Regions from separate parts of the Homo sapiens genome. Here region 2 is linked to region 1. The links come from fine-mapping of genetic effects on gene expression. Tissue or cell type: whole blood. Region 1 holds a variant in brackets; the other region holds the start of a gene. All regions are shown on one strand. Distances are from middle to middle.

Region 1 (8,103 bases):
GAGCATTAAAAAGGATAGTTCAAGTAGGCCTCATGAAAAAGGTGACATCTGAACAAAGGCTTGGAGGAGATGAGATAGCTGTGCAGCTTCTGGGGCAGTAATCCAGGAAGAGGTTTTTAGGTAGAAGCACACACGCAGAGAGAGTGGCAAGGAGCCCGGTGTGGCTGGAGAGTAGGAGCTGGAGAAGAGCCATAGGAAATGAAGTCAGAGTGGGGAGTATATCAGGTGGGGCCTTGGTGGCCTCAGTAAGGACTTTGGCCTTTACTCTGAGAGACTGTCTTTGGAGACTTCTCGTCAGAGGAGGAGTATGATCTGACTTAAATTTTTTGTTTACAGATGTAAGTGCTGATAATATTGTATAATGTTCTAATGCATTCTTTTTTGAAATGAAAATAAAGTACATAGTAGATAACATTTCTACAGATTAAATGGTAACTACATATTTTTTTTTCTTCTATTAAATCTAAGGTCAGCTTCCCCTTACCATGGTTTTACCATTGTGAATCGACTAAATATGCACAATCTAGTTGAACCAGTGAATAAAGATTTGGAATTTCAGCTCCATGAACCATTTCTTCTGTATAGAAATGCAAGCTGTGAGTATATCTGTTTTATTATAGTTATTACATTTAAAATTGAGTGACTTTAGTTTCTATCAATCCATTATTTAGGAAGTTTCAAATTACAAAACAAAATATGGTCTCTACTTAATGATTATAAATGAGTCTGTTGGAAAGATCAAACCTTTTAAACTGGGCTCTGAGGCCAGAGGTGGTGGCTCATGCCTGTAATCCCAGCACTTTGGGAGGCCGAGGAGGGCAGATCACTTGAGGTCAGGAGTTCGAGACCAGCCAGGCCAACATGGTGAAACCCCGTATCTACTAAAAATACAGAAAAAAATTAGCCGGGCTTGGTGGCAGGCGCCTGTAATCACTTGAACCTGGGAGGTGGAGGTTGCAGTGAGCTGAGATCGCGCCACTGTACTCCAGCCTGGGCAACAGAATGAGACTGTGTCTCAAAAAAATAAATAAATAAACTGGGCTCTGAAACTGGAAACATTCTTTTGTATATAATTTAGTTTACTATTTCATTTAATAGCACTACATTTCTGTTGTCGGTTTATTAAAATAAGGTTTATGCCTTTGTTTTTTTGCAGCTGTGGACTATCAGCTGCCCATGTCCCTAAGCAACAGAACTTAGTTTGGGACACACAGGATGGGAACAGATACAGATAATTCTTTCCACAAAGAAAGTATTATTATTACTATTATTATTTTCTTTTTTTTGAGACGGAGTCTTGCTCTGTTGCCCAGGCTGGAGTGCAGTGGTGTGATCTAGGCTCATGCAAGCTCTGCCTCCCGGATTCATGCCCTTCTCCTGGCTCGGCCTCCCAAGTAGCTGGGACTACAGGCACCCGCCACCACGCCTGGCTAATTTTTTTGTATTTTTGGTAGAGAAGGGGTTTCACCGTGTTAGCCAGGATGGTCTTGATCTCCTGACCTTGTGATCTGCCTGCCTCGGCCTCCCAAAATGCTGGGATTATAGGCATGAGCCACCACGCCCGGCCAGAAAATATTATTTTTGCCCAGAATAGTGGTGATGGGTTTTTTTTTTTAAGATATTTATTACTTTTTCTACTTTATTTTGTCTGAATATGTTTCTAAGTAAGGTTTTTCTATCTGTTTATTTAATTGAGTGTCTACTGGTTACCAGCACTGAGCCAAGAGCTGTGGTGCTTTAATGTTAACGATACAGTTACCTATGTGGTGTAAGCAGGCAGTTAAGTCAACTGAGACTCAGAGATGCATAACTATTACCCTGTTGGAGAGTTAGGATTATGACTATTCTTCTGCTTTTTAGTCCAGGGTTCTTTCAGGCATTTTTACAATCTCTAATAACGATTGGATGTAGTCAGCAAAGCTAGAGTGGCCCTTCCAAGAAACTACAGTACTAAAAAATATACTTGATTCCAGTGTATTAGTATGGATATTGAAGGTATGGGTGTTTGAGGACAGTTTGTTGGACATTGACTATAGGGATATGAAAACTGGTTATGGTAACAATGATTGTGCTCTAATTGGCATCTAAGGATATAGTTGGAGAAATGTTGCTTCTAACTTAAAAAGTAAAAGTTAATGTGTTTGAATTTCACTTGGCGGGGGGGTAATTGGTCTTGGGGGATGTCTTCAGTATAAAATAGAAAAAGTTACTAAAAATTATACACCTCTTAATTCCCTGAATGAGAAGTAACAAGGCCTATTTTAAAGCTAGAAACCCCCAAGTTCTTTTCCGTAGCACACTTTGAAGTATAAGTGAAATAGGTTCTATCTTTTGACTTCTCAGTAAACTATTTGTCCAGGTAATTACCTCTCAGATTTTAAATTCTGTGGACATATTAGACATGCTTTGTAATAGCTGTAAGTTCAGATGGATTTATTTAAACTAATGTTAACAATGTAATTATTTCAGATTGCTCTTTTCTTTGTACTGAATATTCCATTAAAGGGAAAATTCGGCTGGGCAAAGTGGCTCAACACCTGCAATCCCACGATTTTGGGAGACCGAGGCAAGCAGATTGCTTGAGCCCAGGAGTTTGAGACCAGCCTGGGCAACATGTCAAAACCCCCACTCCACAAAAAAATAGAAAAATTAGCCAGGTGTGGTGTCACACACTTGTAGTCCCAGCTACCCAGGAGGCTGAGGTGGGAAAGTCGCTTGAACCCAGGAGGCTGTCCAGGCTGCAGTGAGCCATGATTGCGCCACTGCACTCCAGCCTGGGCAACAAGCGAGACCCTGACTCAAAAAATGAAAAGAGGGTGGGAGAAATTCTGCAAATGAATATGGATCCAATTTTTTTTTAAGTGAAATAGGCTTAATTCTGTTCTTTACTGCCTGGAAACTTAATCTAGCCATCACTCCTAAGTGGTTTGATTATTAAAGTAGTCAGTAGGGAAAGTTATCCGGACCCAGTTACCATTTAGCATAAACCTGAGATGAATTGTATTATATTTTTTTCACAAGGCAAAAGTCCTGTGAAATTGAAAGTGTGACATAACACAAATGTAATTGAACCATGAGTAACCAGAAGCTAACTAATTAGAGCTTCAGTTGTCTGGAAATATTTTTATAGTTCGTGTGTGGAAGAAATGAAGGCAAATTATAAGAAAACAAGCTAATACTAGGTTTTATTTTCTGAAAATCAAGCAGATATCCAGAGAATAACCTGGGGTCGGCATTAAAATGTCAATATTTTATAACTTTAACTCCACTGTAGTATCATAGGTTAAATTGTTATAGTGAGACCTAAAATCATCAGGAGTATTTATTATGTTAACTAGAACATTCTTGGGGAGAAAGTGCATTAATGCATTTTACTTTAGAAAATTTTCAACTGATTGAAACAAAAGTTTTCTTAGTTGAACAGAAAACTCACTTAACCAGGTCATTTC[A/G]TTAGGGAAAGTATTTAAAGGAATAGCTGTATTGGGGAGAAGTGATAAGACAACAGAAAATGATTTTGTGAGTGTTAAGCCCTCTCGAGTGTGTGTTTTGTCTACATAGTCTTAAAAGTGGAAAATAGTCTTGTCAGGTCAGCGAGCTATTAAGTTGTTTAGGGATTTGTTCTTTAAATAAAAAGTTAGTATCTGATTATGCATACAGGTAATTATACCTGATTCTATAGCTGCACTTCTGCCATTCTCTTGTGGGAAATACCATCAAGACACCTGACCCATTTAACTCAAGTGACACCTTCATATCCAACTTCTTTCATTCAAATTAATTTTTGGAGTTAATGTACTAGAACAGTGAACCATAACTTTTTTTCAGTTCTAAGTTATTTGTTTTATTTATTTTTAAGAGTTTTTCTTTTTTTTTTTTTTTGAGACGGAGCCTTGCTCTGTCACCCAGGCTGGAGTGCAGTGGCATGATCTTGGCTCACTGCAAGCTCTGCCTCCCAGGTTCACGCCATTCTCCTGCCTCAGCCTCCCGAGTAGCTGGGACTACAGGCGCCCACCACCACGCCCGGCTAATTTTTTCTATTTTTAGTAGAGACGGGGTTTCACCGTGTTAGCTAGGATGGTCTCGATCTCCTGACCTCGTGATCCACCTGCCTTGGCCTTCCAAAGTGCTGGGATTACAGGAGTGAGCCACCGCGCCCAGCCAAGAGTTTTTCTTTATAAAACATGCCCATCTACACCCACCCCACCCCTCAAGAAAAAGATAAAATCTTAAAGAGAAAATTCTTACACTGACTAAGGGCTTAGGCTTGGTGATTCTCTTAAATCTTTGTGGGGTAGTGGTGGTGGTGGTGGTGGTTGTTTTCAAAAGACAAGGTCTCACTGTGTTGCCCAGGCTGGTCTTGAACTCCTGGGCTCAAGCAATTCTCCCGCCTCAGCCTCCCGAAGTGCTAGCATGGGCCACCATGTCCAGCCTCTTGAATCTTTTGGGAACAGTGTATTTTTATTCTGTGCAAGGGCCTTTTGGCAGTCACAAGACCCCAGTGGGATTGCAATGAATTATGGGGAGGTTATAAATTCTGGAGTTATTGAGTAGCAGTGGTATTTCTAGCACCTTATTTCTGATCCTCAACTTACAGGTTGAGAAAACAAGAGGCTCAGAGCTGTTTAGGAATCTGCTCGAGATTCGCAAAGGTAATAAGTGACAGATGGAGAATTTGGGAGTAGGTCTTTCGGGCTTCAAGGCCAATGTTCTTTCCACTCTACTGTAACAATAAAATTACTTCATCAATCCATATTCTAGAGTAGTGCTATCCACTAAAACTTTGCAATTAGGGAAAATGATAGTTCCGTGTCAGCACTGTCCCATATAGTAGCCTGCAATGTGGCTAGGGCAAATGAAGAACACTTCTTTTTAGTTTATTTAATTTAATATATTAGAATTTACATGGCTGTATGTGCTGGCAGCTGCCATACTGGACAGTGGAAGTCTCAGCATGAGCTCATGTGCTAACATGCTCTTTGTTGTGCCATACCTGAATCAAACAACTACTTGGGAAGCTTTGGCTTAGATTTTTATGCGTCCTATTTAGTCATTCCTTTTTGAAACTTACAAATGATTTCTAGATACAAAAGCTGCAGAATATATCCCTGAGGGTGGCTTTGCCATGGTAACATTCTTTTGGCATGGAATTTAGTTTGCAGATAAGAATTCTATTCTGGGCTTTGCCTTACTGACTATAACCTTGGCTAAATCATTTAAACCACTGATTTGACCTATTTATCTTAAAAGGCCATCATGAAAGTAAGGTATTTTGTTAGGCATTTACAAATACAAAATATCATAGACTGTGTCTCCATTCTAGACTCAACAAATGATCTCATTAGTGAAAGAATCCTAGGGACATCAGTGTTATCCACACCTGGCCTATCCAGATTCTCTTATAACACAGGCCTGTGATATGCTTCTTCCTATCCCTTCTGATAGTACCATGCATGAGCTGCAGGCTCTTTGTGTCTCTTTACAAGTATTATTTTCAAATGTTGTAGGGGCCATTACTAGAAAGCCTGAGGTATACATTGGAAAAATATATATATTAAAAATGAGAAGTCTTGGCCAGGTATGGTGGCTCACGCCTGTATCCCAGCACTTTGGGAGGCCAAGGCGGGTGGATCACCTGCGGTCAGGAGTTCAAGACCAGCCTGGCCAACACGGCGAAACCCCATCTCTACTAAAAATACAAAAAAATTAGCCGGACATGGTGGTGCACGCCTGTAGTCCCAGCTACTTGGGAGGCTAGGCAGGAGAATCGCTTGAACCCAGGCAGTGAAGGTTGCAGTGAGCCTAGATGGCCCCTTGGCACTCCAGCCTGGGAGACAGAGCAAGACTCCATCTCAATAAATAAATAAATAAATAAATAAATAAATAAATAAATAAATCTGGGCTTTGGGTTAGAAGGAAGATGTCTTCCTAAAAAATAACCATGGGACTTCCCTCATACAAATTTAAGGTTCAAGTTGTACCATTCATTTAGTATCATTTCTTACCCAGGTCAAGAAATTAACATAAAATTAATCATCAGCTGGTGATTACTCTACGGCATCTGGCAGAAGCAAATGTAGATCCCTTCTGGCAAGATACATTCTTAGCCCAGCCAGGTTGCCCAGGAATATCAGGCATGTCTCATGGTCTAAAATTACTAAATATACAAGGAAATACTTTGCAGTGAATGAAAGGTAGCATATAACAAACAGCAGGATTATACAACCCTTCCCAAAGACTTTAGTTCATGGAAACTAGAGACTCTAATGGATGTAAATACCAGATACAGATTATAAAATAAAGTAAAAAGAACAGCAAATGTGAAAAAAGAATAAAGGCCCTGTGCGGTGGCTCACGCCTGAAATCCCAACACTTTGGGAGGCCGAGGCAGGTGGATCACCTGAGGTCAAGAGTTCGAGACCAGCCTGCCCAACATGGTGAAACCCCATCTCTACTAAAAATAGAAAAAATTAGCCTGGCGTGGTGGCAGACACCTGTAATCCCAGCTACTCGGGAGAGACTGAGTCAGAAGAATCGTTTGAACCCGGGAGGCAGAGGTTGCAGTGAGCCAAGATCATGCCACTGCACTCCAGCCTGGGCAACAAGAGCTAAACTCCATCTCAAAAAGAAAAGAATAAAATGCTGCCAGGCACAGTGGCTCACACTTGTAATCTCAGCACTTTGGGAGGCCAAGGCGAACAGATCACTTGAGCCCAGGAGTTCAAGACCAACATGAGCAACATGGCGAAACCCTGTCTCTATAAAAAATACAAAAAATTAGCCGGGTGGACCTGGGAGGCTGAGGTGAGAGAATCACCTGAGCCCGCGAGGTTGAGGCTGCAGTGAGCCATGATCACGCCACTGCGCTCCAGCCTGGGTGATAGTGAGACCCTGTCTCAAAAAATAAAAGAATAAAAAAGAATTAAATGCTATTAAAAAAAAGGAAGATTTGAAAAATTGCTGAGTAGAACTAATAGAAATTAAAATTTTAATTGAAAGATACTCTCTACTTGGATTCAACAGTTAATTGGTAATAGCTGAAAAGAGAATTGGTGAGCTAGAAGATATATCTGAGGAAATCCAGAATGTATCCAAAAAAAGGACAAAATGGAAATATGACAGAGTGATTAGAATTATAAACTCTAACATTTGATGGATAAGAATTTCAGAATGATAAAGCAGATTTGTAGAGAGGCAATATTTGAAGCGTTGATGACTGGGAATTTTCCAGAATCCATAAAAGACATAAATCTCAGATTTAAACAATAGAATGAGCTCCAAGCATAAAACATAGAAATATTAGCCGGACACTATGGCTCACGCCTGTAATCCCAGCACTTTGGGAGGCCTAGGCAGGCTGGATCACTTGAGGTCAGGAGTTCGAGACCAGTCTGGCCAACATGGTGAAACCCCACCGCTACTAAAAATACAAAAATTAGCTGGGCCTGGTGGCGGGCACCTGTAATTCCAGCTACTCAGGAGGCTGAGGCAGGAAAATCGCTTGAACCCGGGAGGTGGAGGTTGCAGTGAGCCGGGATGATGCCACTGCACTCCAGCCTAGGTGACAGAGTGAGACTCTGTCTCAAAAAATAAATAAATAAAAATAAAAAAAATATATATATATACACATGCGCGTGCACACACACACACACACACCCAGACACATTCTGATGAGATGTCAAAGGCAGAGACAGAAGCAACCAAAGGTTGCTCAAGATTGGGTGTTTACAAAGGAACACCAGTTAGACTGACAGCATATTCCATAGTTGCAGCTACTGAGTTTAGAAGACAAAAGAATAATATATTGAGAGGACTGAAGAAAAAAAAAAACCAATAATTCAGTAATCGAAGAGAACAAAATAAAGATACTTTTCAACAAAAACAACAGCAGTTGTCTCCCCAGATTCTTGCTGTAGGAGCTCCCACAGCAGTGCTGTCAGTGCAGTAGCCACATGTGTCTATTGAGCATTTGCAGCGCGTGACGGGTAAAAGCAGACAACTGGTTTTTCTCTTTCTTACAGCCAAACGCTCCACAGTATAACATGATTAATTGAAAATATTAAGATGCAGGCTTGTGGTACCATCAAGCTCTATGAAATTGGTTCT
Region 2 (8,103 bases), 82 kb after region 1:
GTTCCTGCAATCTGGGATTCGTCATGCCCGGCCCAAGTGCAGCCCCCTCTGGGTCCCCAAAGTACAGGGGACATGAAGAGGTGGGACATGACTTCCTGACACTGCCAGTCTCTTATGCAAGGTGCCCCTGCCCAGTATGGCTAGACCGGTCCTGGCATTTCAGGCTGAAGGGCAATTCAGAACTCTCTGCTTCACATTCCACTCTAGGCAGCCAGTACAATCCATCAGCACTGCCTTGGTGATCAAAGCCATTGCCCAGGAACAATACTGGGTGGCATGGCACCCCTCAGGACCCCAACCCCCCTCAGGTCCCTTTTAGTGATACTGGAGATCCCTGGGGAGTGGCTGTGGGGGACTCTTACGTGGGGACTCACACTGTTCTGGCTCCTCTAAGGGTGACCTTCTCCCTAGTGCTGCACGGGTCCTGGGGGACAGCTCAGATTCCAGAATGTGGCTCTGCTCTCAGGTCACTGTGGCCTCTGCTGGCACCTGATGCCGGCAGTAGGACATTTCTGCCACTTCCTACCCTCCAACAGAGCACCTTTGTGTCTCGGTTTCTGGAAAGGCCGGAATGAAGGACACCAGTCTGAATGGCCAGATTCCCTCCCCTGAGGCCTCCCTGATGCCCTCTTGGCTTGGGTGCAGCCCTGGCACTTGCTGACTCTGTGTCCTCAGGCACATCACTTGACATTCATGCTTTCATTCTGCAGGCATTCATTGAGCCCCTATTGTATATGAGACCCAGTTGTAGTCCCTGCGGATAGAGCCAGGGACAAGAGATTGTATTCCGGCTCTCCGGGAGCTGACCAAAGATCATGCAGATAGGCAGAGAGCCCTGCAGAGACCAAGACAGGCAGTGTGATGGGCAGCATGGCTCTAGATCCAGGCCATGTGAGGAGCCTCAGGAAGGGCTCTGCTGGCTCAGGGAGCAGCCTGTGCAAAACCTCTAGGAGGGAGTGGGCTTGGTATTTTTTAAGGAATGCGAGGTCAGTGTGGCTGAGATGGGTAGGGCTGGGGGACCTGAATTATATCCAAAGGGTGGAGGAAGAACAACATGGGAGTTAAGCTGGGGAGGAACACTTCTCTGGCAGCCATGGGGAGGGTGAACAGGAGGCTGAGAGAGGATGGGGTGTGAGGGCAGCAGGGAGCCAGATGTTAGCTGGAAGCCAGACAGGATCCCAGGGCTTTCTTCCAAGTGCCATGTGACTTCTGAGGCGTGAGGGTTCGAATAAAGACCCTGGGACCTGGGGACAAGGGAACCACCCTGGACAAACTGGGTGCTAGCAACACCTCCAGCTAGCCTAGGATTCTGGTTCTGAAGCTGACCTTCAGGAAGACCAAGAGCTCTTGAAATAAGGCTGAACCCTTGGGCCCTGTGAAAGGGAAAACACTCAAACTCTGTTTTTCCTCTGTTCTCACACCACAACAATTAACACAAAAGACTCCTGTGATCAAATGTGTGGGGGTTTCTCCCCATGCACCAAGCAAGCAACCAATTCTGCAGCAACACCAGCTGGGTGTCCTCCAACTCTATTCCATTCTGATGCTAATTACCTGGAGATAGCCTCAGAAACCACAGGTTAAGGATTCAGTCCCCCAAGAGCACCTCCTCCTTCCCATGAGTCGCAAGATTGGGACTGACCAGCTTCAAGTTGGGGTTCCCACCACTCCCTCTTTGGGTTCAATTAATTTGCTAGCGCAGCTCTCAAAACTCAGGAAAGCACATTTATCGGTTAGTTACAAAGGATATTTTAAAGGAGACAAAGAAACAGTTAGGCAAAGAGATACATAGGCGGAGGCCTGGAAAGGTCCCTAGTGAAGGAGCCATTGTCTCCATGGAGCTGGAATGTTCCACCCTCCCAGCACGTGGATGAGTTCTTGTTCACCTTCCTGTGAGCCTCCACGTGTTCCGCTGTCCAGAAGCTCCTGAACCCTGTCCTCTTGAGCCTTTCATGGACATTTCATTGGACAGACATGATTGACAACCTTGTGGAAATGTGATTAGACCAAAAGTATATGATCTAATACTAACTGACTGAGTGGGGAAACCCCGCAAGACCTGTGTGTCCTGACTCTTCTTGACCTCTCTGTGAAGCTCACTGTCTGGTAAAAGGGCAGACTCTTGAAACCTTTTGAAAACTCTGTGCCATCCAACTCTGTGGCCCTTAGGACAGTGGCTCCCTAAGGGAGTGGCCTCAATTTCCCCATCTGCCTAACGGGACTCATCCTTATCACTCTGCACCCACTCTGGTCTTCCCTCCTCATGGGTATGGGACAGAACCCCTTCTCATGGGGGTCTAATGACCTACAATTACACGAGGTAGGTGAGAGAACTTACTTATGGCCAGCTCCAAGACAGACCGGCAGGAGAAGATCCTGCCATGGGGAGAGAAAGGAGCAGGTGAAAGGAAGGTAGGAGAAGGCCTGAGAGACTCTGTTTCTGGGGTCTGCTCCTGAGGTCTAAAGCACCCCAGTGGTATAACAAGGGTTGGGGGCAGTTCTAAGCCAGGGGCCTGTATATGCATATCATAGTATCACAGGCCCCATTCATGTGGAACACCAGGAGGAGAGAGAGCCTCCCTGAGGTCCCTGGAGCTCCAGGTGGTGGGGAGGGGACAATTTTCTTTCCATTACTCCTAGGTCCCCAGAGCCATGGTGAGTTCTGTGCCATTGTCAGAGACCAGAGTGATAAGGATGAGTCCCATTAGGCAGATGGGGAAATGGAGTCCACTCCCTTAGGGAGCCACTGCTCTAAGGGCCACAGAGTTGGAAGGCACAGAGCTTTCAAAGGGTTTCAAGGGTTTGCCCTTTTTCCAGACAGTGAGCAGCTTGAGGGCAGAGGTGGCACCTGCCAGGCATCTGAGGGTGGCACACTGTGGGGCCCCCCTCCAATCCTAGCCCATAGCCCTCACCAGCCAGACACCATAGGGCCAGCCTCTGCGGGCTGGGCCAGCAGGAGCCAGGTGCTATGGGATGCCATACTTAGGGTCTGATTGGGCATCTGGGGGTCAGGCCAGCAGAGGAGCACCTGGAGGCGAGCTGGGGGACTCACTCAAATTCAGTCAATCGCCTCATGAGCCAGAGCTCTCTGAGTATGGGCAATGCAGGGAGGACACAGAGGACACAGGGCGGCCACTGGTGCCTCTTGGATCTCTCAGGGTTTTAGCTCCCTGCCCAGCCATCCGTTTGAGGGTCTTGCCTTTATCTTTCCTCTGTCAAATGGAGCTTCTTCCTCTGTAAAATAGGCATTGTAGGCAGTATGTACCTCACTGGCCAAGTGTGGTGGGCAGATTGAATGAAACAGTGTCTGTGATGAAAGTCCCCTCCCTAATCCCACTCTGGGGAGCTTCATACCTCTGGGAACCATGGGGTCTGATAACAGTAGTGGTGGGTGCCCCTGTCCCTACAGACCTGGAAGCAAACCCAATAATCTCCCTAAAAGTCAGTAGTGTTTCTAGGCCCTAATAATTTGTAAAGGATCTTCCCCTAGTAATTTCTCAGTTATCATCACCTGGCATTGTCATGGCTACCACTATCCTATTCTCATTTTCAATAATCCCCATCCCCTGTGCAGGGCTCTAAAGCCCTGAGTGGCTGGGCATGGTGGCTCATACCTATAATCCGGCACTTTGGGAGGCAGAGGAGGGCAGATGGCTTGAGCCTAGGAGTTCAAGACCTGCCTGGGTAAAGTGGCAAAACCCCATCTCTACAAAACATACAAAAATTAGCCGGGCGTGGTAGTGTGTACCTATGGTCCCAGCTACTTTTGAGGCTGAGGCAGAAGGATCACTTGAGCCCAGGAGGCTGAGGCTTCAGGCAGCTGTAATCACTCCACTGCATTCCAGCCTGGGTGACCATGGGTGACCCCGTCTCAAAGAAAAAACAAGTTTTTTAATTATTAGAAAAAAGAAATAGGGCCTGGTGCGGTGGCTCACCCCTGTAACCCCAGCACTTTGGGAGGCCGAGGCGGATCACCTGAGGTCGGGAGTTCAAGATCAGCCTGACCAACATGGAGAAACCCCGTCTCTACTAAAAATACAAAATTAGCTAGGTGTGGTGGCGCATGCTTGTAATCCCAGCTACTAGGGAGGCTGAGGCAGGAGAATTGCTTGAACTCAGGAGGCGGAGGTTGTGGTGAGCCAAGATCATGCCATTGCACTCCAGCCTGGGCAACAACAGCGAAACTCAGTCTCAAAATTAAGTCCTGCAGTCTCTTGGGCCTGGGGTTGGTCGGCTGGGGCCAAGCCTGGCACCCACCAGCCTTGTGACCTTGATTGCCCTTGCCAAGCCTCAGTTTGTCCATCTCTAAAATGGGATTCGCCGTGACAAGTCCACGGAGGACTGTGTGGAGGAGGGAGACTGAGAGGCTTTCGAGTCAGGAGCCCAGACTCGAATCCTGAGTTGTTCGTTATGTTATTATTATTGGTGTGTGTGGTTAACTGCTAACCTCGCAGTCCGCAGCGGCCCAGCGCCTAGGGGAGGGGAGCGGGCAGGAGGCGGCCCCAGGCGGGGCGGGGCTGAAGGCCTGGGGTGATCCGAGCCCCGCCTCCTCCCCCTGCCCCGCCTCTCCCATCCCCGCCCCGCCCCGCCCGGCGACTTAACGCGCCCCCGCCCCGCGCCCGGCCTCGGCAGCCGCCTGTCGCCGCGGGAGCAGCCGCTATCTCTGTGTGTCCGCGTGTGCGCCCGGTCCCCGCCTGCCGCACCATGGAGAGCTACCACAAGCCTGACCAGCAGAAGCTGCAGGCCTTGAAGGACACGGCCAACCGCCTACGTATCAGCTCCATCCAGGCCACCACTGCGGCGGGCTCTGGGTGAGTGCGCGGCGCCGGCCGGGGACGCGGCTCGGGCGGGGCGGGGGGCGTCTGCGGCGGCCAGAGTCGCCGCGGGCTCTGGGTCGCGCTGCGAGATGCCTAGACGAGGAAGGTGGCCCGGGCGCCGTCGGAGGGCGGAGACGCGCGCCTCGCAGGGCCCCGGGCTGCAGGCGGCTTCCGCTGCGCCGCACACTCGCCCTACGCCCGGGCTCGGCCGCGTGGGCCTCTGGTCCTCCGTGCGCCTCAGGCCGGCTCTTCCCCACGCGGATCGCCGGCCGCGCAGCTGCATGGTGGCGCGGGGGATGGGCTCGCGACTCGCCAAGTACCCTCTAGGGTGATGCCGGGAAGGCCACCATTACTGCTGTTCTACAGAACGCGGCCCTCTTAACCCTCTCCACCACCTGGCTGTGTGGGCGCCGCCGGGAGTGTTCCCCCTTCCAGATGGGGAAACGGAGGCTCCGAGTTAGTCAGCTACCCAAAGTTACACACAGGGAGATCTGATTTGAGCCCCAGCAGTCCGACTCTAGAGACCCTGTTTTTAATTCCTCTTGCAGGAGACTCGGGGGCCCGGCCTTCTCCCCACCTCAGACTACGCTCCCCTACCCCTGTCTCCTGCCACCCCTGGGTTGGGTCCGAGTTTGGAGCAGGGGGCTGCTGAGACGCCAGGCAGCGGCGGGGCTGATTGGGGGAAGAGGGGAGGAGGGCGGTGGCACGTGGGTGCAGAACCCTGGGATCCATTGTGAAAAGGAGGTCTAAGATTTGACCTGGGGCGGGAGGAGGCGGAGGGCAAGGAGACTGAGAAGGCTGAGCGCCGGAAGGACGGAGTTCCAGGGCCCTAGCGCCGGGAGTGACGTCCTGGGGCAGGGCCAGCCACCAGGTGCTGTATCTCCCAGGCAGGAGCTGGCGTGCCTAGGCCCCAAGATCCTTCCCTGGCCAGCCCTTTTGGCCCAGAAGGTGGACACCCAAGGAGCCTCCTCTGTAGCGGAGACAGGGATAATTAATGAGGGCCACCGTGCATGCAGCTGGAGGTGTCCAGTGGGGTGGGTGAGGGGGTCAGTCAGTGAATTACTTCAGAGCCTGCTTCCCGCTCTGTAAAGCGGGGACAGTAATGGCACTTAACCACGCTGGGTGGTTTCAAGGACTCCAGTGCTCTACTTGGAGGCTGCTTTGAGGCCACAGTGCCAGCAGTGCTCCGGGCTCATGACAGGGTTGTGAGGGCTGCGTGATGGATGATTTCTCGGGACCTTCCCAAACAAGCTCTGTTTCAGACAGACAAGATTCTGGCTTCTGGCCAATTTCATTCAGGATATATTATTAAGAAGTAAATCTGTTCACCTTTCTGGGTGGATACGCATTCACCCTTTGTGCCTCTAAGACACCCTGTTCTCAGAAGGGATTAGATGTCTTTCAAAGCCCTTCCCCCACCCACTGCCTTGCACACTTTGGACCTGTTAGCTCTCCTGGGTTTGTGTCAGTCTTACCACTTATGTGGGGTATCCCCTGCCTGGGCAGGGACCTGGCTTACTCTCAGCTCCCCTTTCACCAGCCTGGCACACGGTAGCTCTGCAGGCCTTGTATTGCTTATTTGGTACTGTTGGACCTGCTACCTTTGGCCGTTTCAGGGGGTCTGAGGTCTAGCTGGAGAGAGGCAGCAATTACCCAACTAAGTAGTATTGCACATCTGAGCATCTTTCAGGGCTAGATAAAACATGCAGATGTTTACAGGGTTCCTGAGCTGCCAAGTAGGTATCTGGTATGACACAGCATCATCGTTTGTTGCATCCTGAGAATAACCCTGTGAGATAGATTGTGTTGTATTCACATTTTATAGACGGGAACACTGAGGCTAGTGTGTTAAGTTACTTGCCCAGGCTGGGAATTGGTGGCCATTCCGTACTGTCTGGTTGGGGCTCATGCTGTCAGGAATGCTTCTTGGCAGGGCATGGTGGTTCATGCCTGTAATCACAGCACTTTGGGAGGCCAAGGTGGGAGGATTGCTTGAGCCCAGGAGTTCCAGACCAACCTGGGCAACACAGTGAGACCCCATAGCTTAAAAAAAAAATTTTTTTTTTGAGATGGAGTCTTGCTCTATCGCCCAGGCTAGAGTGCAGCAGCACAATCTTGGCTCACTGCAACCTCTGCCTCCCAGGTTCAACTGATTCTCCTGCCCTAGCCTCCTGAGTAGCTGGGACTACAGGCATCCGCCACCGCACCGGCTAATTTTTGTATTTTTAGTAGAGATGGGGTTTCACCATCTTGGCCAGGCTGGTCTCTTGACCTCAGGTGATCCACCCACCTCGGCCTCCCGAAGTGCTGGGATTACGAGTGTGAACCACTGCCCCCGGCCAAACATTTTTTTTAATTGGCTAGGTGTGGTGATGTGTACCTGTAGTCCCAGCTACATGGGAGGCTGAGGCAGAGGATCACTTGAGCCCAGGAAGTTGAGGCTGTAGTGAGCCTTGAACATGCCACACACTGCAGCATGGGTGACAGAGTGAGACTGTGTCTCAAAAGAAAGAAAGAGAGAGAGAGAGAAAGAAAGAAAGGCCAAGAAAAGAAAAATAGTTGGGCATGGTGTTACATGTATGCCAGCACTTTGGGAGGCCAAGGCAGAAGGTTCGCTTGAGGCCAGGAGTTCAAGACCAGCCTGGGTAACATTAGCAAGACCCTGTCTCCAAAAATAAATAATGTTTCGGCCAGGCGCAGTGACTCATCCCTTTAATCCCAGCACTTTGGGAGGTGTAGGCGAGTGGATCACCTGAAGGTCAGGAGATCGAGACCAGCTTGGCCAACATGGTGAAACCCTGTCCCTACTAAAAATACAAAAAATTAGCTGGACGTGGTGGCGGGCGCCTGTAATCCCAGCTACTCAGGAGGCTGAGGCAGGAGAATCACTTGAACCCGGGAGGCAGAAGTTGCGGTGAGCTGAGATTGCACCATTGCACTCTGGCCTGGGCAACAAAATTGAAACTTCTTCTCAAAAAAAAAAAAGAATGCCTCTTGGGCAAGCAGTCTGTGCCAGGCTGGAGAATGGTGAAAAAGGTGAAAGGGAAGGCCAGGTACAGCCGCGGTGGATATTAGTCAGTCTGAAAGGCACTTGGAGAGAAATAAGATTTACAAATGTAGGGTGCTCCAAAAGAGTGGAATGTCAAGTGTGTCTCCTAGTTCTTTGTTAGGCAAAGTCTGATTTCCTCACCGCCGTTACCCCTCCGGAAACATACTGTGGTGTCCGAGAGTTACACCATGTTTACATTGTAATGTCTTGGAGAGGGAAGCTCACTGAACTCAAAAA

Evidence for each region. PIP is the estimated chance that this variant, and not a neighbour inherited with it, causes the effect.
Region 2: it holds the start of TKT, and the variant in region 1 is fine-mapped to the expression of TKT in whole blood (INTERVAL, PIP above 0.99).

What each region holds. Positions count from the first base shown.
Region 1 is chr3:53,334,637-53,342,739 of GRCh38, reverse strand. DCP1A (decapping mRNA 1A) reads left to right here. Exons shown (of 10, transcript NM_018403.7): 3 at 469-596. Among named protein-coding and RNA genes, the nearest start is that of SNORD38C, 5.6 kb to the right of the region's middle. The variant A/G (reference allele first, on the strand shown) is at 3,450.
Region 2 is chr3:53,252,544-53,260,646 of GRCh38, reverse strand. It overlaps TKT (transketolase), which reads left to right and starts at 4,625. Exons shown (of 14, transcript NM_001064.4): 1 at 4,625-4,811. The coding sequence starts at 4,705. RefSeq lists silencers at 1,780-2,074, 4,339-5,028 and an enhancer at 1,780-2,074.